Homo sapiens: one gene and its partners. The protein of the gene in region 4 purifies or fractionates together with the protein of the main gene of each other region. This does not show direct contact. Each region holds a gene or a part of one and is shown on either strand. Other genes may lie near its edges. The genes, in order: TBC1D4, DCTN4, PPP4R2, SMC4, RABL6, PPP2R2B and USP15.

Region 1 (3,500 bases), on a different chromosome or scaffold from region 4:
AATTATAGACATAAAATACTTCTTGGTACTTACAGTCCATATTAAATGAATGTATAAATCCGATTTACATGAATTTTTGTAATGTCAAATTGATGAATAATTTTTAAGTTGAAATATCATTGTATTTTTAAACTGATAGCTATTATCCTTTTATCTGTGGACCCAGATCAAACACTACTCACAGGTACTTCCCTGTATCTTTGAAATTCTAATAATAGCTACCAAACCGTTGTTTCTGAAAATCAGAATTATTGAATTCCTTACAAGACCATCTGATTCCTATCTGATATTAAGATACAGGTGACCAGGCACAGTGGGTCACGCCTGTAATCCCAGCACTTTGGGAGGTCAAGGCAGGTGGATCACCTGAGGTCCGGAAGTTTGAGACCAGCCTGCCCAACACAGTGAAACCCCAACTCTACTAAAAATACAAAAAATTTAGCAGGGTATGGTAGTGCATGCCTGTAATCCCAGCTACTCGGGAGGCTGAGGCAGGAGAATCACTTGAACCCAGGAGGTGGAGGTTGCAGTGAGCCAAGATCGCGCCACTGCACTCCTGCCTGGGTGACAGAGCAAGACTCCGTCTCCAAAAAAAAAAAAAACGATAAAAAGATAAAAAGATACAGGTAAACTCTTTAGGAATAAAAAATAAAACTTTCCACAGTTGTTATTTGACTTGTTAAACCTACGAATAGTCATCAATGAGGAATCAAATCATATGAACTCACACCAGAAAACCTAATGTTGATAGCAAAGCCCTATCTCCCCAGTCAAAATTTTACCTTCAGAAAGTAAAGAAAAATGGAATACTTCATCTCCATTCATACTCTCAAAAAATATCATTTACTATAACGCTCAGACTAAAAATACAATTCTTTTGTTATACATTGGCAACTGAGATATTAAAGGCAAAAAACTCATCTCTGGGAAACAGAAAAAAATAGTATATTTTAAAAGCATCTTTAAACTATTACTTCTTATCTAAAGCACAGTATTATGATGAACTGGGAGTCATGCATACCTCATTTCAAGGGAGGAAAAACCTGAGAATCCTCTTTAAAGTCTTCTTTTATATTTTTAACCACTGAAAGCTTTAAATTGCCAGGCAGTGGTTGTTTAAGTATCTATAGACAAAATTTAAACTGCTTATTAGCAACCAACCCACTTAGAGAAGTGAAAACTAGGAGAGAAATGTGCAAACAGGGAGTCTGAGGTAGGCTAAAGACAGCAGTGGCAGTTAATACCCCACTCAAAATACCTGGAAAATCTTAATGGTGCTTCTTCAGAGCCTGCTAAGAAAAGCAGACTCAGTGGCTCAAGCCTGTAATCCCAGCATTCTGGGAGGCTGAGGCGGGCGGATCACCTGAGGTCAGGAGTTCAACACCAGCCTGGCCAACATGGTGAAACCCCATCTCTACTAGAAATACAAAAAAATTAGCCAGGCATGGTGGCACCTGCCTGTAATCCCAGCTACTGGGGAGGCTGAGGCAGCAGAATGGCTTGAACCCGGGAGGCAGAGATTGCAGTGAGCCGAGATCGTGCCACTGCACTCCAGCCTGGGCAACAAAGCAAGATTCCATCACACACACACACACATACACACACACACACACAAAGCAGACTGAAAAGGCACCACTGGCTTTCACACTTTTTCCTCTGTAAAGGCCTATCTTACATGAAGATAAAGGAGGGGAGATATCAATGATAAGTTCAAAAAGAACCATAACATGGTATCTGCTATTTGTGTACTCAAAAGTAAAGGGATAAAGATACTTTCAGATTGTAAACAAAAGATCTGTGAGCCTTTTCAACTGAGAAGTTGAGAAAAAGTGAATAAAGATGATTTGATACCTTCTCCATGTAACCCATAGACTTAGGGCATAAAGGACTGGGTCCTCATCACCTACCTTTCTTAAATTACTTATTTACTTACTTCAGGAATTTTATGGAAAAGGTATTCTGCCTCTGGGTCTCATACACTTAGAAGTTTACCTAAATAGCAAATCCCACACTAAGTGAACTAAAACATGCCCCAATCTTTACCCAAGTTCTAAGACAATGGCTCTACATTTCTTTAAATCTGAACTGTAATAATTGAGAAGAGGGCCAGGATTTCTGGTAATAGTCTCACACCTTCCTCGGGAAGCACAAGTGCCTCACCTGCAGCGACATCATGTCAGGTCTGTACTGCTTGCGGAAGCCGAGGTCATACATGAGGAATTTCAGCATTTCAAAGGCTTGCTCTTCACTCATGTGCAGAAGCAGGACTCCAGCCACAAAGCTGATCCCCTGACAGTATCCCACTTCTTTGTCCAGCAAAGAATAGGCTTTCAGGAGGTTAAACAGTGACAGCTGTCCTGGCCCAAGCTGTACTGAAAAGTAAGGGTGAGTAGGAAACGTCCTTCCTGCAGAGGAAAAGAAGGAAAATATTTTTTGAAATGTCCTCATGCCTTGGAGACAACAGTGAAATTGCAATTCAGTGACCTCCAAGAATAAACAGACACTCTTTCCCAAACCAGTGAGAGTTGCTTAGAGTCACCATGTAACTAAGAGTCTCTCCCTCTCTCACCCCAAGTTCTGCCAGGCCACCATACCATCTTCACATATACGATATGGGAGGAAACATTTTATGCTAACCAGTACTTCTTTCCAGCAAAAAAAAAAAAAAAAAAAAAAAAATACAATAAAAATCCACAAACCAATGATGTACCCAGGAGAAATACCAGGAAAATGGAATATAAATTTTATTCTGACTATAAAGCAAGGCAAATTCTAATTCATATAAAGACTACCTTCTAAATGAAACCAGAAGTCTGTAAGACATATTATATTATTTAAAAGAAAATCTTCATAGTCTATAAACAGGTTTATTTCTGCTTTTCTTATGACACTGGAGGGACTTTTTGGGTTTGTTTGACTTTACATTCAGACTGTCATTCAGAAGAAAACTGCTTTTTCAACTATCGTTCGCTCTCTGCTCTTAAAATACCTCCATGAGCCATGTAAACCACTTTTCTTTTTCAATATCTAAAAATATCAAGGAAAATAAAGGGTCAAGTCAATTTCAAATAAATTCCCCTCTAAAATATACCTCTAGGTATAAAATTACCACAGAGACACTTGAGCTGGCAATGTGAGTCCTGCATCACTAAAAGGAGAGTTCTATACACAGAAACAAATCCGTCTTCACATCAAAGCTGTCTATATTGGTATGGGCATTTTTCTAGGGCCACAAAAATGAAGGGGGATGTTAGCTTCCTTGTGAAATGATTACTCATGTCATTTAGAACTTGCAAGAGTGCCAGGTTTTAAAATGTTTTCTCCCACATATGCTTAAAAGTGATTTTTTTTTCTAGGAACCAATAAGATTAATTCTGCAGAGCCAGTAAGAGGAAGATATGAGAAAATAACAATTGCATGCTGAAGAAACACAGATGGCTACAAGCAGAGCCAAATAAGCAATTTTTAAAATTATGGTTTTACTTTCTCACTTAAAATTT
Region 2 (3,500 bases), on a different chromosome or scaffold from region 4:
CTAATAGGAATTTCTGAACTTTGTTTAGGACAAATATGGTCTTGGAACCAGGCTTCAGCGACCACGAGCTGGTGCATCCATCAGTACCCTTGCCGGACTTTCGTAAGTTTAGACATGAAATGACTTTGAGGAGAACAGCAGGTATCAAAATGAATATCAAATAAATGAGATTAAAACACACACACACACACAGTTGTCAATGGAAAAGAAGATTCTCATACTTAGAAAAGACCTACGCTATACAGATATTCTATGACAGAGGAATACTTCAATTATTGATATCATAGACTGAGGATAATCAGGTGGATCCGTGAGAAATTACTCTTTTGTTTTGTTTTGTTTTGTTTTTTTAATTTTTCAGCCTTAAAGAAGGAGAGGATCAGAAAGAGATAAAGATTGAGCCAGCTCAGGCTGTGGATGAAGTGGAACCTCTACCTGAAGACTATTATACAAGACCAGTAAATTTAACAGAGGGTAATTTTCTGTGTTTTTCTACTTTGTTTCTAGTCTACATCTAATTCTGTTTTTGTTATTTATGTACCTAGTGATTTGAGATTTTTAATGGAATAGCTGTTAGTAGTAAAAACAATATGTAGAAAATAAAACAGCTGTAATAGAGGTAATTGTTTGAAATCTAAAATGTCAACTTTCTATATTTTCATTTTTATGAACAACACTGTTCGTAAAGGCAGTAATGCTTCGTGTAATTACTGGTACATAAAAGTCTGATTTTGAAAGTCACTGTAAACTAAGCCTGTTTTCTGCCTTTCTTTCTAGTAACAACCCTTCAGCAGCGTCTGTTACAGCCTGACTTCCAGCCAGTCTGTGCTTCACAGCTCTATCCTCGCCACAAACATCTTCTGATCAAACGGTCCCTGCGCTGCCGTGTAAGTATTCCATTCTGTAGACTGACCATTTGTACAAGAGGAAAGCAAAAATAAATGTGGCTGGTGTCTGACTAATGTCAAAACCTTTGGAATGTATTAAATACAGAAAATACTTGTAGAGAACATACTAATTGCCAGGCACTATTTTAAATGCTTTCAATATAAACAGCTCTTACAACTCTGTGAGGTAGGTACTACTGTTAAACCTGTTTTACAAATGTAGAAAATGAAGTATCTGAAGGTTAAGTACATAGGGTTAACCCCTAAAAGAATAGTGAAAGAGTGTGAACTTTTAGGCTAGTGTTCAGGCTCAGGGAGGACCAATAAAAAATAATCAATTTAAAAGAAAGCAAGAAAAATCAGCAAAATCCAGGCTCTGGTAATCTACAGAACAAATGACAGAGTTTCTTCAATAAATAAATTGTAAAAACAAAATGGAAAAGAAACCTTTTAGAGGAGTACTATCCAACAGAACTTTCTATGGTGATGGAAGTATTCTGTGTCTGTACAGTCCCGCATGATAGCCACTAGGCACATGTGGCTCTTGAGCACATGAAATGTGATAGTGCAGCTGAGGTACTGAGTCAGTCTTTAATTTCATTTAAATAACCACATGTCGCTAGTGGCTAATGTTACTTAATCATTCTCTAGATTAGAAGAGACTTAAAAGTTTACCAAACACAATGTATAGAGTTTACGTAGATTCGGATTCAAACAAAACAGAAAGAAAGGGCCCAGGGGAGGAGGGAAGAAGGGAAAGAGGAAAGAAGGAAAGAAAAATTTGTGAAATCTTTGAGAAAATTTAAACACTGGTAGCATTTTCGATGCTATTAAAAAACTATTGGGCAGGGCACAGTGACATGCACTTGTAGTCCCAGCTACTCTGGAAGCTGAGGCAGGAGAATCCCTTGAGCCTGAGGAGTTTGAGACTGTAGTGTGTGATGATGGTGCCTGTGAATAGCCACTGCACTCCAGCCTAGGCAACACAGAAAGACCCTGTCTCTTAAAAAAAAAAAAAAAGTATTTTTTCTTTTTTAGGAATAATGATAGTACTTTGTTTGTTTGTTTTTTAATGTCTTTATCTTTTGGAGATACATACAGAAATATTTATGGAGGAAATGACTTGGTCTCTGATATTTGTTGCAAAATAATGAGGGATGAGGAATGGGTAAGAGTATAAATGAAACAAGATTGGCCATTGTTGCTAATTTTTGATAACAAGATGCTGATTCTTTTTGTTTGTTTAACCTGAGAGCATAGATTCAAGTCCTGCATATATATTCCGAAGTTGATAATCGTTGAAGTTGGGTGATGGGTACCTAGAGATTTGTAATACCATTCTATATTTTTGTACACGTTAGAAAATTTCTATAATGAAAAACCTTTATAAAAAGAAAGAAAAAGAAGGGGCAAAGGAACATTGAATTGGTAGTTCAAATAGAAAGCCTGGGCTCATGCCTGTAATCACAACACTTTGAGAGGCCAAGGCAGGAAGATCACTTGAGCCCAGGAGTTTGAGATCAGCCTAGGCAACATAGTGAGACCCTGTCTCTACCAAAAAAAAAAAAAAAAAAAAAAAAAAAAAAAAGCCAGTGTGGTGGTTCACACACTTGTAGTCCCAGCAAGTCAGGAGGCTGAGGCAGGAGAATTGCTTGAGCCCAGGAAGTTGAGGCTGCTGTGAGCAGTAATCACACCACTGCACTCCAGCCTGGGTGACGAAGCAAGACCCTGTCTGTTAAAAAAAAAAAAAAGATTGTGTGTGGTAAGATAGTAGATTAAAATCCAGATGTATCAGTATTTACATTAAATACCAATGAACTAAATGCTTCCATTAAAAGACAAACATTGTCAGTCTAAATAATAAAGCAAATTGCAGTGATCCATCTATATGCTTATTACAAGAAGCACAAACATGAGAACTCAGAAAAGTTGAAAGTAGAGAGAAGTGGGAAAAATATTGGACAAACACTAATTTTTTTAAAAGAGGGATAATTTGTTTAAAAAAAAGATTCAATTTACAAAGAAGATATAACCGTCTAAAGTCATGTGCACTGAATAATAGACTCAAAATATATAAAGCGACATTTGAGAAAATTACATAAATGGACAAATCATTTTGGGAAATTTTGACATACTTCTCTCAGTAACCGAGAGAACAAATAGATGAAAATCAGTAAGAATATAGAACATTTGGACAATTTATCTAGCAAACTTGACCAAATGGGCATATATAGACTACTGTACCCAATGTCTGCAGAATATATGCATTCTTTTCAAGTACACACAGAACACTTATAAAGGTTGATTATATACTGGATTATTATAAAGTAAGTCTGAACATTTTTCAGAAGATGAAATTCTTTTTCAGTTAAAAGAAAGTTTTTATTAACAAGAAAAGATTTAAGTCACATTTATACTTTATAATAATAAATAGGCTAAGATGCTCAATAACACAAGACTTTCTCTTTTGAACACTTTATTTCCATTTAGTACTCTTAAATACATTTGCTTGTTGTGTGTTTATATTTTAATAGGTAAAAGTTATGAATTACCAGCTATTTTGCTACCTAACTGCACGGGAAAATGAAAATTTATAGAATTTTATCATTAGAT
Region 3 (3,444 bases), about 87 Mb from region 4:
TATATATATATATATGTATGTATATATGACTTAAAGTTCCATTGTACGTAGCCAAACAATAAAATCTGGAAACCAGCATGAAACCCTATAATTCACATGTTAAAATGTTGAAACTATGACCAAAATATGAAAACTGCTAGAGCTATCAGAAAGAGACAAGACAAAAAGCTTCTTGCATATGTATAAACTAAATGTGATAATCTCAAAAAACTTTTCAAAATTGTAATTACTTTCCAGTTTAAAAACTTCAATCCTAAATTAAAAAAAAAAAAAAATCTATACACAAACCACTGATTTGCCCAGACCAAAAAAAGAAAGAAAGAAAAGTCAGCGGTAAGGTAAGCAGGACCCAGAGGAGCTGATATTCACAGTTCTTACATGTACAACTCTTTCAGGAATTATCCATAAAGTACTTTATTTTACAACCTGCTTCTCTTGTAAAACTAAAGGTCCATTTTATTACACAAAAGTTTTATACAGTGTTAAAACCAGAACTGTATGTAAAATACTGCATCTAAATGTTTCTAAATAGTTAGTCTTGTTCCATTGGTTCATCGGTGACTTCTGTGGCTTCGTCATCATTTTCCATGGATGATTCTGAAAGAATCTCTCCAGTTTTACTGGAATTGGATCCTACTAATTCTTCTGTTTCACGGCAGTCAGAAGAACTACTACTTACAGGGCCTTCGTTTTCACTACCTTCAGAATGTAGCAAATCTTTCTCAGCTTGAGACACATCAGATTCCTCCATTTGATTATTTTCCTCAGAAGTCTCTTCATTCACAGTTAAGGCATCATCAGATTCTTTTTCTTGATTTTTTCTTTCTGGGATCATTTCTCTTGATGTCATAAAAGACTCTAAAAATAAGCAAATGTTGTTGTAGTTAAATTGTATTTTCAAAATACCTCCACAGTTAAGTTTCATGAATTCTGATATTCTATAGTTCAAATCACATCCCCTGAAATTCAGCAGCAACTACATACAGGTGGGAGAAAAGCCCAACATCAGCATTATAAGGAGTTCCATTACGTAAAATTCTTTCACGAAAAAAATGAAGTACAAGAATTTGAGGATCTCCTTACTCCACCCTTTTACAGATGGTCTCTAAATACCTTCTTCTTCCTCTTCATCCTCTTCTTCATCCTCTTCTGTACAGTGCTGCCGGGTACAACGGCTATCTTTGTCTTTATCCTGAGATGAAGATGATGCTTCTGTTTCTCCTACCATAACTGAAGAAATTTCGCTGGAAGTCGTTTGACTGGCTGTTTCTCTGACTTCACCTTCTTTGTCAAACCTGAGTCTTTTTACCTCATGCCCCTCAGCTTCCACAGCATCTTCATCTGGATGTTTATTTTTCAAAGGGCTCACTGAGGAAACTTCTGATTCAGAGGTCGAAGAGTCACTGTAAATGTTTTTTTAAAGTGTCATTAATAAGATTATTTTCCCCATCTTCTACATCCCCATTTTTAAGGTTAAATAATGTTTTAAATTGTATTTCAGTGTCAAAGTTAAATTATAACACCTGAACAAAGAAAAACACAAGAGAATAATTTCAAGGTAAACTAAACTGTTTGATGAATAATTCCCAGTAGGACTCAGAAAAGCTATATGACCTTTCTGTGCAATTCTCCAGTAAGTTAAATATTCTCCTACAATAAACCCGCAAGTCTTCCATACGGACATACTCTCTTAAGTCCTCTCCCTCATTTAGTCTTCCTTCCCTTAATGTGATACAGAAAATTTGAAGATATAAACAAAAGGTGTCCTTTTATGAACTACAATGAGAAACGACTCACAAAAATCAACTTATTTATAAAGATCATTTCTTTTCAAGTAACTTTCAGAAACAACAAATGAAATGGATCATCATATCTACGTTACTTTTAGACCCTACATAAACAGTCTCCACAAATTAGCAGTTTTAAGTCTTGTCTATGTCCACCTTCAACATTTGCTACAGCTGCAAAGAGAAGCCAGTGCTCCTATAAACCGCATGAAAACCTTGTTCTGTCCCTCAGAACTTATAAATAGTAAGTGATAAGTACTGATTAAATGTTAACTTTAACTTTTAATAAAAACACTGTTTTTAAATATAAAACATACAAACCTGTGATTTTTCTCCTCATTTTGCTGCAAATTTGCCTCTTTGCTGTCTGTGCTCTCAGGCAACCCATTTGTTGTCATGGGGGCTGACAAAGAAACCTTTGGTCGATTAAGTGGCCTGGGTGTCCCAGGCCCATTTATATTAGACCTATAATAAGATAAATGAACATCATTTCCTATTTTTATAAAAAGTCATCCCTCTTAAGGTATGTTGATGTGAATACATCACAGAAGTATTTGCTGCAACTTTGTTTTCAGGCCCATGCCTTACCAAATTAACTAATTCTATGTAGTTCATCCTATGGTGTCCATAAAATGCCCAATTTTTAAAAAGTACACTAAGCCTGCTACTCAAAATCAGGACAATGCAAACTCTGTAGGTATTAAAAATCTAGAATCTCACCTCTCAGTATAGCTTGGTGAATTTCCAGGAAACATAACACCATTCATTCGATTTAAACTATTGGAATTGTTTTTCCTATAAGAAAAGAAAATACACTTGTGGATGACTTAATTTTTTTTTAGATGGAGTCTGGCTCTGTCACCCAAGGTGGAATGGAGTGCAGTGGTGCAATCTCAGCTCACTGCAACCTCCACTTCCCAGGTTCAAGCAATTCTTATGCCTCAGCCTCCCAAGTAGCTGGGATGACAGACGTGTGATGCCATGCGCAGCTATTTTTTTTATTTTTAGTAGAGACGGGGTTTTGCCATGTTGGCCAGGCTAGCCTCAAACTCATGACCTCAAGTGATCGGCCCACCTCGGCCTCCCAAAGTGCTGGGATTACAGGCGTTAAGCCACCACACCTGGACTTTTTTTTTTTTTTTTTTTTTTAAATAATGAGAATTAGTTCATGTTAGGAGTGCATGGATCTATGATTCCACCCAACACTCCCCCCTCAAGATCTTACGGGGTAGATGCCATTTGAAGCAAAGGGAGTGTGATGGTTGATCCTGGTATAACATCAGGAGCTTTAAATCCCAAAAATGTGGGGTTGCTCATCTTGGCCCAGTAGTTTGCCGCTGTTGCTAAGTTTGGGAACATTCGTGGTGACAGCTCCCCAATAATGGGGTGGCAAAGTACACCCCCAAACTCAAAATATTTCCCCAATGCCTTTTTAACCATTGTTTTTTTTCTCCTCAAAGACTGGGATCTCAGACACAATGGCCCGTAGAGCAATGGAGCCATCCATGCACTGATCTAGAAACATTCTCACAGCATTAATAGGTTGTCATCTGTGCTTTCTTGGCAACTAACTTGACTTGCGTAGCTTGTGTAGAGGGGATTCAAAGTCTCCAAATAGAAGTGTGAACATTAATTCTCCAACCCATGGTCTTGAGCT
Region 4 (2,402 bases):
TCCAACTTTTCTTAGGTGGTCGAACACTGAAATGATTAAGAAAATCATAGTCAAATTACCTGTAAAGCTAAAGTTAAGACTTTGTGATTTGCTTTCCATAATTGAGTTCTACTATCTTTTTTAGGAATCTGTAACTTGCTTTTCACAAATATGAATTCTCTTTTCTGTTATTTTATAAAAACGTTATTGGAGGATGCATACATAGGAGCACATACCAAAGTTTTAAGATTTAAAGAGCAAGCTAAGTATTATACTTCTTGCTATTCTTTCTCCTTATCAAATACAATTTCTCAATCCTCATGTTAAAAATGCCTTGAAAATTTAAGAAAAGATGAACTAGACAAATATTTTGTAAATACTGGCTGTCTGCCCCTGTAAACTGCAAGCATAAATAGCATGCAAGCAAATTAGTATTTACTAGTAAATGAAACAAGTTGTACATCTTGCCTTCACATCCTACCTCCAAGAAATACTGAGTTTGGAGAATATGTAGAAAAAGGTAACAGTGGGATTATAAACTCAGCATAATTACACACCTGAACATGATTCCTTCAGAGAAAGGATCCAAGCTGTCTACAAGCTCGAGTTCGGCGTCCCCTCCCAAAGTAAGCATTTGGTAATTTTCCTTTAATTTATTTGTTATTATATAAAAACCTGCCATAAATTCATTAAGCCTTTGTTTCCGAAGATCTTCATATGCCTGTCTAAAACTGTCTCTTTCATAAGTAATTTTGTCCAATTCTGCTACCCGTTGCAAATACAATTCTTCCTGTGAAAAGATTATGATAGGGAAAATCTATTCAGATAAATTTGATATGATAATTAGCATTGTTAATTATTACTTTGTTTTGAGACGTAGTCTTGCCCTGACGCCCAGGCTGGAGTGCAATGGCGCGATCTCGGCTCACGGCAACCTCCACCTCCCAGGTTCAAGCGATTCTCCTGCCTCAGCCTCCCGAGTACCCGGGATTACAGGCACGTGCCACAACGCCTGGCTAATTTTTTGTATCTTTAATAGAGATGAGGTTTCACTATGTTGGCCCAGCTGGTCTCGAACTCCTGACCTTGTGATCCACCCGCCTTTGGCCTCCCAAAGTGCTGGGATTACAGGCGTGAGCCACCACGCCCGGCCAACAGCATTGTTAATTATACAAAACTAAAGATCAGAATTTAGGCTAAGGACTAAAAAGAACTCCAACTAGTATACATACACAGTTCATTCATACCTTCTTTTTATACTCTGCGATGGCACCGAGGTTTGGTTTCATTTCATGACACCGGGCTTCCAAAAGTGCAATTTGATTTGTTATAGAATCTGGATTCTTGATCGCTTCAAGATCCTCTGGGCTTAGAACCGAAATCTCTTCAATAGGATTATCTTCTATAGGATGCAGTGATATTTTTGAAATCTAAAAGTTCAATTTAGGGGAGAGTTAGAGAAGGCATAATATTACATACAATTCATTGTTTAAAAAAAAATATGACAAATTACACAGCTATGAAAACAACAGGAGTTGTGACTGATTTATCAATTATTTTTCAAAGGACTTCAAGAAAAATAGTTGTAACACTCAAAAGTGTCCATGTAATCTTTTCTTAAATGTCCAGATCAGCCCTAGGGTGAAAGGGTAGTTGTCTAATTCTAATCGTTACTCAGACTTTTCTGTATATAACAATTTATATTGTTATGTCCCCTATAAACCTTAGAAGTGATCACAGAATTAAAAATCACAATGTAGCTCACAAACAAAATTTAAGAACCCCAACCCCCTAAAACAATCCTCCCCAAACCCTCCTTTTTCATAAAGAATATGTTTAAAATTAAACTAAACGGTAACAATCTCACCTCTTTGTGCCAATATTTTATTTTAGAATTATGTTCAGCAATGTGACCATCTATTTGTTCAAGTTTCAACTTAATACTAAGTGCATCTTTTTGAAGAGCATGTTCATTTTCTTGAATAACTTTTAATTCTTGAAGCAGATTGCGATGTTCTTTCTGGATCTCTGGTAAGGATTCCTAAACACCGAAAAGAACTGCTAGATAGAATTTTCCAAATAGAGCCATCATTTTCACATTACAGAGATGAAGGAATTACCAATCTCTCCTCATGCCCCTTCCATTTTAAAATAATTTAAGCATTTAAATTCACAAATTATAGTATTCTTATTGTACAAATAAAAATTGATAGTTATAAAACTTTAAGTCTATGAGTGCTTACTACATTCTAGGCACTGTCATATATCCAGCTCTTTAAATTGGTTCCAGTATCATCCCATCTCCTCTTCAATACAAAGCAACTCATACCTCTGCAGCATTTGTATTCTTTACGACCTCTGCTGCTTTGTCCTCAAGACTTTTCAGCTCTGCTGTTAGGTCATCCACCTCTTTCTCAGTATCT
Region 5 (3,500 bases), on a different chromosome or scaffold from region 4:
CCCTCCCTGGGCCTCTGCCTCAGCACCCTCCCCCGCACACCGGAGCACCGGGCAGGGTCCCTCGGGAGCAGGGCCACCGCACCCACCTGTCCAGGTTGTCGATGAAGTCACGCACGTCGTCCGGCAGGATGACTCGGTGCTCGCCCATGTCCCGGTAGTTTCCCAGCACGCACACTGGCACGTGGGTGGGCACTTTTGGAAGCTCCCGGAGAATGTAATTGAAGGTCCTCGGAGAACAGGTGAGGACCTGGCTTAGTTTCAGCCCTGCGACGCCCTGTCCCTCCCTGGAAAGGTGCTGTGCGCCCAGGCCCGAGGATGGTGGCTGCTTCTCATTTCCAACATCCAACCCAGCAGAAGCATGCCTCGTGCATGCAGAGCTAGAGGGAAGTGCCTCGAGGGCCTTCGCACCCCTCAGCCTGCAGCCCCCGCCCGTCCCTCTCCCTGACGGCAGGTACTTGACCGCACCCCACACTGGAACGCCCCTGCCTGTCCCTGCCTTCCCTCAGAGCACCCCATGTCCGCATCCCTACAAAACCACCTCTGGCTTCATCTGTGTCCACCCTCATTCCGCACTGTCCTCTGTGCCCCTTGGTGTCGACCCTGTGGCTGGTCCTCCAGGCTCCCTGCCCACCGGGGCAGCCGAGGACACCCTGGGGTGCCTCTGCGGCTGCCGGTGAAGCGGGCTGTTTGGAGAGCCTTGTCTTAAGCAGACATCTCCTGGCACGGACGGCAAGTCTCCAGAGTCTGCCTGGCGTGGAACTGCCAGTTTCCCAGCTGCGTGGTTTTCCAAATGGCTTGTGAAGAAATAACCAGCGCTTCAAGTGACAAAACTTCCCCACGACTGAAAGCCAACATAAGGGAGTAAAAAATGCAACATCCTGTTTCTAACTTCATTTTCTTTCATTTACACGCAGTCATTTAAACGGGCCCCTCACCAAGGCCGGCCCAGGGGCACCTCTGGCCTCCTAAGCAGGTGGCCTTCTGGTGTCTCCTGCCTCTCGTGGCTGTGAAGGGCCTGCGTGGTGCTTGAAGCCGCTGTCTGAGCCAGTGTTTTCCATCCTTCCTGCTGGGCACCAGGGGCTCCAGACAGAGCATTGCTACCATAGGCATCGCCTGCCCAGGCTGGTGCTGCCAACAGGGTCTCCGGGCCCACAGGTAAGCGCCTTTGCCGCGTCTTCTCAGGCTGGCTCAAGTCTCGCTGTCACTCCCGCCCACTCCTCGCACGGCAGCCCAGGCGGCTGCAGCTCCCTCCAGGCCGTTCCTGTGGCAGCAGTGGGAGGTGCCGTGGAGGCCACACTGTGTCCACACTCAACTTCGCTTGGGAAAAGCCACTTCCCACCCACCAGGCTGGCCTGCTGCCTAGACAGGAGAGGCCGGAGGGAGAGGAGCACCACTGCTCGCCCAGGTGAGGCCAGCGTGTGCGCCCGAGCTGAACTCGTGCCCTGGGGTGGGGCCGCCAGCCCCGTGTGTGGTTCTCCTGCCATCCGTGTGCCACACCCCCACCGAGGGCTCTCCTGAGGGTGCCTGCGGTCAGTCCTTGGTGGTGGTGCTGAAGGCTGGGAGGGCAGGCATGGTTCCCAGCATTGGCAAAGGTTGGCAGAGGCCCAGAGCATGGCTGGTCAGGTGCTTCAAGCCGCCCTCAGGCCTGGGCTGCTGATGCGTGCTGAGTGTGCGGCCCCGTGACAGGCGGTACGCTTAACCCTGGTGTGGGGGTCTTCCCAAGTAAGAGAAGCTGCTGACTAGGCCCCCAGGCCAGACCCACTGCTGGGAAGAGCAGATGCCTGGACGTGTCGGGCATGCTGCTCCTGGTGCTCCGGGCACTGGCTGTGGCTAGGAGGGGCCCTGCACCAGGACACTGGTCTTCACGCGGCCCTCGTTCTTCTAGGAGCCTTGTGCCAAGTGTGCGTCCGCAGCACCCCCCCGCTGGGGCTCCGGTGCGTCCTGGGGGACACTGCACTCCTGAGGAGCTGAGTGGATCCCATGCGACTCCACAGTGGACTCTGGGGGCTTGCGCCTGGTCCCCCAGAGATCGTCCTGTGTGCCACTGCCCTTAGCTGATTTCGCTGTCATCTTCTTGCTAGAATGAATCTTGGCTGTGGGTCCTCCTAGGTCATGAAGACGGAGGTCGCGGGGAGCCCCCAGCACAAGCAGCCACTTGCTTCCGCCAAGTCTCAGATGGGTTTTCAGGAAGAACAGTGGGGCTATGGAAGGTGCGTGCCTTGCCCCAGATGCCTTTTGCAGCCGGCCCACGCCATCCCGCCCCATAGGCACAGGCATAGTCGTTGCCCAGCCCGACATCCAGGCCAGTGCCCCTTGTGGCTGAGCTGCCACAGCTGCCCAGCAAGAGTCCCTCGGTCCTGCAGAACGATGCTGCTCTAACCATTATCTGCTGCACAAAGAGGGCGCCCAAGGGGCTAGGGGGGTGAGAGTCACAGGCAGCTGCCCCCGCCAGCTCCCTCTTACCACTGCTTGGTAATGTCGAACATCATGACCACCCCGTTGCAGTTCTTGTACACGTCCAGGAACTCAGCATCCAGGGCCATTTCAGACTCCGCCTGGGGACAGGAGGGAACAGGTGTGAGACTGGCCCAGGCTGGGCCCCACCCGTGTGGCCCACAGTTTTAGAAAAGGCTGGATAGTCTTCTAATCTGAAAAGATAACAGCCATTTCCATTTGGAAACGATATGCTGAAGAGATGGGATAGCTAAACATAGGTTTGCCCCAAAGGGTCTGACGGTCAACACCAGCCTCGCTGATGGCTCCCTGAACAAGCCTCCTACCCAGGACCTCCCACTGATCACAGCAGTGTCCGCCCCAGGCCTCACGGATAACCAAACCACCACTCGAAAATAGAAGTGGGTGCTGGACTACCAGCTGCCCTCAGCTAGATGTGCGTTCCGGAAGGTTCCAGTGCCCACAAACAGGGTTAGCTGCAGTGCTGTGGGCAGAGTCACTCCACCCCATGCTCTAAAGGGAGTGGGAGGCACCGCACGGAGAGTGCGAGGCCCTGGGTGTGTCGGGCTCAGGTTGGGTTGGCCCCAGGTGGCTCCGGTGAGCGAAACTCACGCCCATGGCGCTGCGAGATGTGTCCTGTGCTTTGAAGGGCCGAGCCCACCGAGACTGGGATAAAAGTTTGGCGAGTTCACTTAAATACCTCTCAGGTCACTCAAATGCAAATAGGGGTCAGTCCAACGTGATGTCTGTCGAGTGCAGGTGAGCCGGCCACCCCCAGATACAGCCATGGCAGTGTGGGGTTTTCAGAGCAGTTGGGAAGGCCAGCGGCCCCCGTGGCCACAGCATAACTGGGGTGGTTGGGGTCAAAAGCGTGTGAAGCGCTGGGCACCGGCTCACGCACCCCGGGGCCCTGAGCCACTGCTACCCACTGTGTACCTGGCACTCACCTCCTGGGGGTCGTTCTCCATCTTTAAGCCGTCGCCTCGCTTTTTGCATTTTCCTTATTTAAAAACAAACAAAAATTACGAGGTGGAACCCCTGGGCCT
Region 6 (3,500 bases), on a different chromosome or scaffold from region 4:
TCAGTCGGGGCTCAGTTGCAAGAAATGATTTGCTTGAAAAGAAAATAGCTTTGGTTATTTTATTATCTTGTTTCTATTAAGTGACCACACCTGTGTTGTGGGGTTTTGTCTGTCTTGGGTGTTTTTTTAGTTTGTTCCCTCTCAGGCATTAGTGTTCTTATTCTCTTTCTTTGTAGCCAGTTCACCCAGAACTCAAAGGAGGAAGAGTGATAGGTCTTTGTTCACATTTGCCAGAAAGACGGTCATGTGTGGGAAACTATTTAGTTGCCGATTCTCTGATCCACCAGAAAGAAATCATTTAATCATGTATTCTTACTCATTCAACAAATACTTACTGAGAAGTATTTATGTATCAGTAAGGTGACCATATCATTAATGTTCAAACTGGGACAGTTTTGCATGTAAAAGTGGACACTACCTGGTTCGCACTCTAAGACAAATATAAACCAAGATTTTCTCAGTCAGATGTCATTGGGTTCCCTATATATTAGTGGCTGAATTTGGACGATTAGAGTCTTGGGTGATGCTAAAGTTTCCCAAAATGCCCTTAAGGATTAAGGACAAAGCCAGGAAGGGGTATAGCTTCCAAAGCCATGAGATGAAAAGACATAAAAGATAAATTTAGATTAAAGTTGAACTAGACATTTCTAAAATTTTCCCACAACTCCCTTTTTTAAATAGATTTCATGTTTAAAAAAAAAATAGAACAATGTCTCTGGAAGGTAATGACTCCACAATGGAAGCCAAGTTCCCCTGAGATGAGGCTACCTGGAGGGGCTTAGAAAAATGTTTAGAATTTATAAAGAATGAAATTTCCCACCAGGGCTAAGTGATGGTGATATCTTTTGAAAGAGGAGGAACAGAATGGAACAAGAACAGTGTGTGATTCGTTATTAGCCTCTTCTTTCTCTAACTTGGAGTTTCTTCAATGTGGCTATTATTTTGTGTGTGATAATAAATGATATTAGCATGCACACTCTTTTCCTATGGAAGATCTTTGGTTCTGAAGTGATTTGTTTCTCTTGCATCCCAGGTGCCTGTCCTGAGACCCATGGACCTGATGGTGGAGGCCACCCCACGAAGAGTATTTGCCAACGCACACACATATCACATCAACTCCATATCTGTCAACAGCGACTATGAAACCTACATGTCCGCTGATGACCTGAGGATTAACCTATGGAACTTTGAAATAACCAATCAAAGTTTTAGTATCCTTTCTTTGTGATCAAGAATCAACTGGCCTGAATTAAGAGTATTCAGGTGCGAGTGGGCTGGGAGAAAATATGGAATAGAAATGCAACACCTAGCATTTGCGGAGAACTTGCCCCTTTTAAAATACACTGGCACCTATGAGACTCTTTAATCATAACAATAAAGTTAGGGAAATATTGTTATTACAAGTGGGAGGCCAGGGCTAGCTCTGGATTGGGACTCTGAATCAATTCCTTCATACAGAGGCATTTATATGTCACGAATTAAAATTAGAGGTGATTTTATCAACAATAGGATAAGACCCTAGAGTTCAGGTTCTTTCTCTGTTAAAGGATTCATAAATCTGTATGGACAGCATGGACCACAGACATACTGGTTTCCATTGTCTCATAATAGTGAAAATAATAGTGACTGACATTTATTGAGTTCCAAGCACTTGCAATGGGAACTTTATAGTATTACATTTTTTACCTCATTGAAGTATATTATGCATATAGAAAAGTACATATTATAATTGTACAGTTTGATGAAATGTATAGTATACATATTATAATTGTACAGTTTGATAAAATGTACAGTATACATATTATAATTATACAGTTTGATGAAATTTCAGAGGTTGAACTCACCTATAACCAGCATTGACATCCAGAAACAGAACTTTGCTAACAATTCTCAAGCCCCCATCATGCCTCTTTATATTAATAATTTCTACCCCCAAGGACATATTTGATAAAACAACCCCATAATGTAAGTATCATTATCTCCTGTTTAATTAAAATATAGAAAAGTCGGCTGGCCGCAGTGGCTTATGCTTATAATCCCAGCACTTTGGGAGGCCTAGGTAGGTGGATTGCTTCAGGTCAGAGGTTTAAGACCAGCTTAGCCAACGTGGCAAGGCCCCAACTTTACTAAAAATACAAAAAAGAAATTAGCCAGGCATGGTGGCGGGCGCCTGTAGTCCCAGTTACTTGGGAGGCTGAGGCAGGAGAATCGCTTGAACTGAGGAGGCAGAGGTTGCAGTAAGCCGAGATCGTACCACTGCACTCCAGTCTGGGTGACAGAGCCAGACTCCATCTCAAAAAAATAATAAAAATAAAAAATATATAGAAAGGTAAAAAAAAAAAATGCTGAATAGCTGGGCCAGTATTTTCACCCCCACTATGTTGACCCTCTATTTCATAGTAAAAATTGGTCATTTATTGAATACCTATCATGTGCTCCATTTCTCACAAACCTAAGGCATGAGATTTATGAGGAATGGCACTGAACAACTCAGGTAACTGAACAATTGACCTAGGTATCAATATGGAGTTTTCTCTTCCACTTACCAGCCTCCCCTACTCTAACTCCATCTATCCATGAGCCCTGCCTCTAAAATATATGTCAAATCAACGCATATATCCCTATCTACCTACCTACACTAGCATAAGCCACTGTTGTCTCTCACCACTGTGACTGCAATAATCTCATCTGGTCTCCATTCATTCTTGCTCTTTTATACAGTACGAACCCTTCAACATGTAATTCAAATATCATTCCTTCCCTGATAAAAAACATTCCAGTAGCTTCCCACTAAACTCAGAATAAAATCCAAGTTATTTAACTTGGCCTATAAGATTCTGCGTGATCTGGAACCTGTCTCCATCTTTGTTATCCAGTCTTGTCACGCTTCCCTAATTCACTTCATTTCAGCCAACTAATCACTTTTCTGTTCCTAAGTAAACCTTATTCTTCCATTCTTTGCATTTGCTGTTCCCTCTTTCTAGAATATTTTGCCCACAGCATTCACATGGCTAGTTACATGTCACTTCAGGCCCCAGAGGTACTCTTTCCCATTAACTCTTAAGTAGCTACCAATAACACTATCCCTGTTATTGTCATGGTACTTACCATGATTTGAAATTTTTTTACTTATGTATTTTTGGTTTCCTCATGTTAGGATGTAAATTCTACAAGAGCAAGGGCCTTGTATGAACTATTGCTGTATTCCAGTACGTGGAACACTCTGACATACAGAAAATTATTGAACCTGTCAAGTTCGAAATAATAGTAGGTCATCAAAGTAGCGCTATCCAGTAGACAGTTCATAAAATCTAACCTGGAAATTTAATTTTAAGAGTTATAGTAAAGCTCTGAAGGTTCGTTTATAGAATAGACCCCATAATGGCTCAAACAAATAAAAGATTATTTTCGTATGAAGTCTAATATTGATGATCCCCATCAGCAGGCAGCCTCCTCCAATCAGTAATTCAGAAACTCGGGCCTCTTTCATTTGCAGCTCC
Region 7 (3,500 bases), on a different chromosome or scaffold from region 4:
TTTATTATTTTGGAAAAAAAATTCAGTAAATGAGAGTGACCTCATGGTTGCTATCTCACATTCATTTGGCATTTGGATTAGTGTTTGTCTCCAATCTTGCCACTATCCTGGGTCCTGTGTGACAATGCCCACATGGATAATTTGTCCTAGTTTTATCATTCCTTGGCTCCTCAATTCAAAGACACTTGCATTAATTCAACCTCAGTCAACTTATTAGATCCTGTCATTACTTGAAACTGCTCCCACTTTTGCTATCTTTTTTTGTTTGTTGTTTAGAGACAGGCTCTCACTCACTCTGTTGCCCAGGCTGGAGTGCAGTGGCATGATCTTGGCTCACCGCAGCCTCAACCTCCCGGGCTCAAGCCATCTTCCGAATTCAGCCTCTTGCGTAGCTAGGACTACATGCGTGTGACACCATGACTGGCTAATTTTTATTTTTTAGAGACAAGGTCTCATTATGTTGCCCAGAATGGTCTCAAAATCCTGGATTCAAGTGACCTTCTGCCTCAGTCTCCCAAAATGCTGGGATTACAGGACTGAGCCACTGCACCCGGCCCCACTTTTAGTATCTTAAACTCGGGTTACTGTCTAACCACTACTTCTTGCTTCTCCTGGAAATTCATTCTTATCTCTTCTTGTCTTGCACAGAGATTTCTATTCCTTTTAACTCTTGTTTTCTCCCAGTTTACCAGCTCCCTACTGTCTTCTAGCCCTTCCATCCAGGCCCTACATGCTTTATCACGAACCTTTAATGTCTTTGTTACTCAATTCTATTCATTCCACTCTTGCTAAACTTTCTCAGAGCTGTTCACATGTGCTGAAGAGAATTTCCCAATTTTAGAGGCTGGTGTGCTACAAATCCACAGTGCCCAATATCAATTGATCCTTTGACAGTACTCAGAAATAATTCTGCATATCACACATGTGGTTATTCTCTCATTTATCTCAATAACTATTTAAAATCTTCATTGGGCTGGGCCCAGTGGCTCACGCCTGTAATCCCAACACTTTGGGAGGCCAAGGCAGGTGAATCGCTTAAGCCCGAAAGTTCGAGACCAGCCTGGATAACATGGCAAAACCCTGTTGCTACAAAAATACAAAAAATTAGCTGGGCTCGGAGGCGCACACCTGTAGTCCCAGCTACTTGGGAGTCTGAGGCGGGAGAATCCCTTGAGCCCAGGAGGCGGAGGTTGCAGTGAGCTGAGATCACACCCTAATGTACTCCAACTTGGGTGACAGAGCAAGACCCTGTCTCATTAACAAAAAAAAAAAAAAAAAAAAAAAAATCTTCACCATTCTTTAGGCTTCCTATTTCACTACTGCTCCCTTAATATCAGCAGAATACCTATTTCATCTCAAAAACAGAAACTACTGGGTGGGAAAATCTCCAACTTCCTGTTCTACTAACTTCTTTGAATCCACATAGGTACTTTTCTGTCTCTTGCAACACATGGAAAGAAAGATGTCTCTCTTCTTATTCAAAGCTAACCTTAGCGTCTATGTTCTAAATCCCATGCTCTTCTGCTTTCTCTGGGACCTAAACCAAGCAATTATTCTTTCTTCCATTTTATCTCAACTCTTGCATAAGCATTGGAATATAAAGTCTCTCAAAAAACAAGGGTACCTCATTGCTTTCCCTCTAATTATCTCCCCTTCTCCTCTATTTTATAAATAACTTTATTAATGATATCTATATTATCATAACTTCCTTATCTCCCATTTACTTCTCAACCCTCTTGCTGGCTTGTCTTCGCCTCTTTATTTAACTTGTTTCCAAGGTTGCCAATAATGTTGTACAACTTATCAGTCTTTATTTTATTGACCTCTTTGTAATATGACTGCTGACCACTTTCTCCTTAAAAAATTCCCTTTCCTTATAACACGACTACTTTTAATTCTTTTCTATTGCTGTGATCATATTCCTCTTTTGAAGTTCTCCTACATTGTTCTTTAGAGTGTTGTCTTTAGCCTTCTTCTCAATTTTATATGCTCTCCTTGGAAGAGGCAACAGTGTCTCCTGATTTGCTTTGGCCAGTCCTGGATTAGCCTGCTATCCTAGTATAATTATTAATGACAGTCCCTTCTATTTTCAAGAGTTCTTGTTTAGATGATAAATCACGGGGTCACCTTAGCCTTAAGTAATCTCATCCTTCTAAAACACTATCATTTTCATAGAGCTGATTGTCCAATTTATAGCTAAAGCAGTCTCTCTCCTTTGGTCTAGATACACAAATTCAATGCCTACTGGATATCTCTACCTAAGTGTTCCTCATGCATCTGTAAGTCAGCATATCCAATACTAAACACAGGTTTGGGTCATGTTAGGCCACCACGTTCAATACTAAAATGGATTCCTTCTTCAACTTGTTCTTCCTATATATTCCACTAAAACAGCACTGCTGTCTCCTCTTTTCCTGTCAAGTAAACTTGGCATCATCTTTGAATATACTTACACATTTTCACTTCCTACATTCAACTGGTTCTTCAAACTGCCATCCTGACAGAGTTGAAGTGTTTGTCATTTGTCTGTCGTCTGATCATTAAAAGCTTCTTACCTGGTCTTAGTACTAAGCCTTTTCTAACTGATCTCTGTGCTACCCAGAATCATCTTTCTGAAACATAATTGTGGCCATATAATATCTATACTTAATAGTCTTTAATGGCTTCCCTAGTTTTTAGGATGAAGTTCAAACTTCCTATACTGGCATCAAAGTTCTTCGTGATCTAGCTCCTGCTTGCCATATTAACTACTGTAGATTACAGAAGTGGGCCATGTCCTCTTCTCCCATAAGTTCTTTGTACATGCCATTATCTTGGCCTATAATGCTTTTATTTCTAGTTTTCACCTGCTTATAACCTAATTGTCCTTCAGAATTTATCACAGGCCTCATAACCAGTTTGGGTAGGTTACTCTGTGTTCTCTTGCAGCACCCTGTCAGAGCAATTTTCACACTGTATGACAAGCTTCTTGAAGAACAAGGACTAGAAACACCATTATATTTCTAGCACCTTGCACAGCATAAGAGCCTAAGATATAATATATATTCAATATTTTTCCTAATAAGCTTCCATGACCTAAATCAACTTCAATGACGGGAAAACTCAACAAATAGGGAAACTCAGCTAATTTCACTTTTCTTACAAGCTGGTCAAAGCATAGTGTTAATGAAATGAGGTGATCATTTTGTATTTGAGTTGTTACTGCCTCTAAATGGAAAAAAGGAAAAAAAAAAAACACAAAACACAAAAACAAACGAATTTCTCTGTGCTAACCATGGCTCTAACCTCCGCAAATTTATATTATTGGTCACCAAATGAGAAAAGTGATAAGTCAATGAAATTCACATTGCTGGAAAAATAATTTAGAGCCCAATTTATGGAAGAGCACTTATCATATACCTTATGGACTAATGTGTAAATTAATGCAATTTGCCACTATTGATATAGATTACCTTATATTATTGGCATGGGAGAATATTATCTCTAACAAATGTGCTGTA

The links.
Region 1: the proteins of SMC4 (region 4) and TBC1D4 fractionate together in Homo sapiens (co-fractionation; one large-scale study listed by BioGRID). This does not show direct contact.
Region 2: the proteins of SMC4 (region 4) and DCTN4 fractionate together in Homo sapiens (co-fractionation; one large-scale study listed by BioGRID). This does not show direct contact.
Region 3: the proteins of SMC4 (region 4) and PPP4R2 fractionate together in Homo sapiens (co-fractionation; one large-scale study listed by BioGRID). This does not show direct contact.
Region 5: the proteins of SMC4 (region 4) and RABL6 fractionate together in Homo sapiens (co-fractionation; one large-scale study listed by BioGRID). This does not show direct contact.
Region 6: the proteins of SMC4 (region 4) and PPP2R2B purify together in Homo sapiens (pull-down; one large-scale study listed by IntAct). This does not show direct contact.
Region 7: the proteins of SMC4 (region 4) and USP15 fractionate together in Homo sapiens (co-fractionation; one large-scale study listed by BioGRID). This does not show direct contact.

The regions. Positions count from the first base shown.
Region 1 is NC_000013.11:75,297,170-75,300,669, forward strand, and holds part of TBC1D4 (TBC1 domain family member 4), read right to left. Parts: intron 2,406-3,500; coding exon 2,161-2,405; intron 1-2,160.
Region 2 is NC_000005.10:150,728,018-150,731,517, reverse strand, and holds part of DCTN4 (dynactin subunit 4), read left to right. Parts: intron 1-28; coding exon 29-102; intron 103-361; coding exon 362-474; intron 475-777; coding exon 778-887; intron 888-3,500. UniProt on the Homo sapiens protein: Part of the dynactin complex that activates the molecular motor dynein for ultra-processive transport along microtubules.
Region 3 is NC_000003.12:73,062,811-73,066,254, reverse strand, and holds part of PPP4R2 (serine/threonine-protein phosphatase 4 regulatory subunit 2), read right to left. Parts: coding exon of another isoform or gene 3,355-3,444; exon of another isoform or gene 2,918-3,354; intron 2,583-2,917; coding exon 2,508-2,582; intron 2,253-2,507; coding exon 2,109-2,252; intron 1,404-2,108; coding exon 1,114-1,403; intron 859-1,113; coding exon 533-858; 3' UTR 1-532. Other genes in the region: EBLN2 (endogenous Bornavirus-like nucleoprotein 2), read right to left, coding at 3,355-3,444. UniProt on the Homo sapiens protein: Regulatory subunit of serine/threonine-protein phosphatase 4 (PP4). May regulate the activity of PPP4C at centrosomal microtubule organizing centers.
Region 4 is NC_000003.12:160,430,650-160,433,051, reverse strand, and holds part of SMC4 (structural maintenance of chromosomes protein 4), read right to left. Parts: coding exon 2,309-2,402; intron 2,021-2,308; coding exon 1,847-2,020; intron 1,410-1,846; coding exon 1,227-1,409; intron 770-1,226; coding exon 537-769; intron 27-536; coding exon 1-26. UniProt on the Homo sapiens protein: Central component of the condensin complex, a complex required for conversion of interphase chromatin into mitotic-like condense chromosomes.
Region 5 is NC_000009.12:136,828,448-136,831,947, reverse strand, and holds part of RABL6 (rab-like protein 6), read right to left. Parts: intron 3,455-3,500; coding exon 3,402-3,454; intron 2,556-3,401; coding exon 2,464-2,555; intron 992-2,463; exon of another isoform or gene 925-991; intron 228-924; coding exon 87-227; intron 1-86. UniProt on the Homo sapiens protein: May enhance cellular proliferation. May reduce growth inhibitory activity of CDKN2A.
Region 6 is NC_000005.10:146,648,258-146,651,757, reverse strand, and holds part of PPP2R2B (serine/threonine-protein phosphatase 2A 55 kDa regulatory subunit B beta isoform), read left to right. Parts: intron 1-1,033; coding exon 1,034-1,211; intron 1,212-3,500. UniProt on the Homo sapiens protein: The B regulatory subunit might modulate substrate selectivity and catalytic activity, and might also direct the localization of the catalytic enzyme to a particular subcellular compartment.
Region 7 is NC_000012.12:62,385,904-62,389,403, reverse strand, and holds part of USP15 (ubiquitin carboxyl-terminal hydrolase 15), read right to left. Parts: intron 1-3,500. UniProt on the Homo sapiens protein: Hydrolase that removes conjugated ubiquitin from target proteins and regulates various pathways such as the TGF-beta receptor signaling, NF-kappa-B and RNF41/NRDP1-PRKN pathways.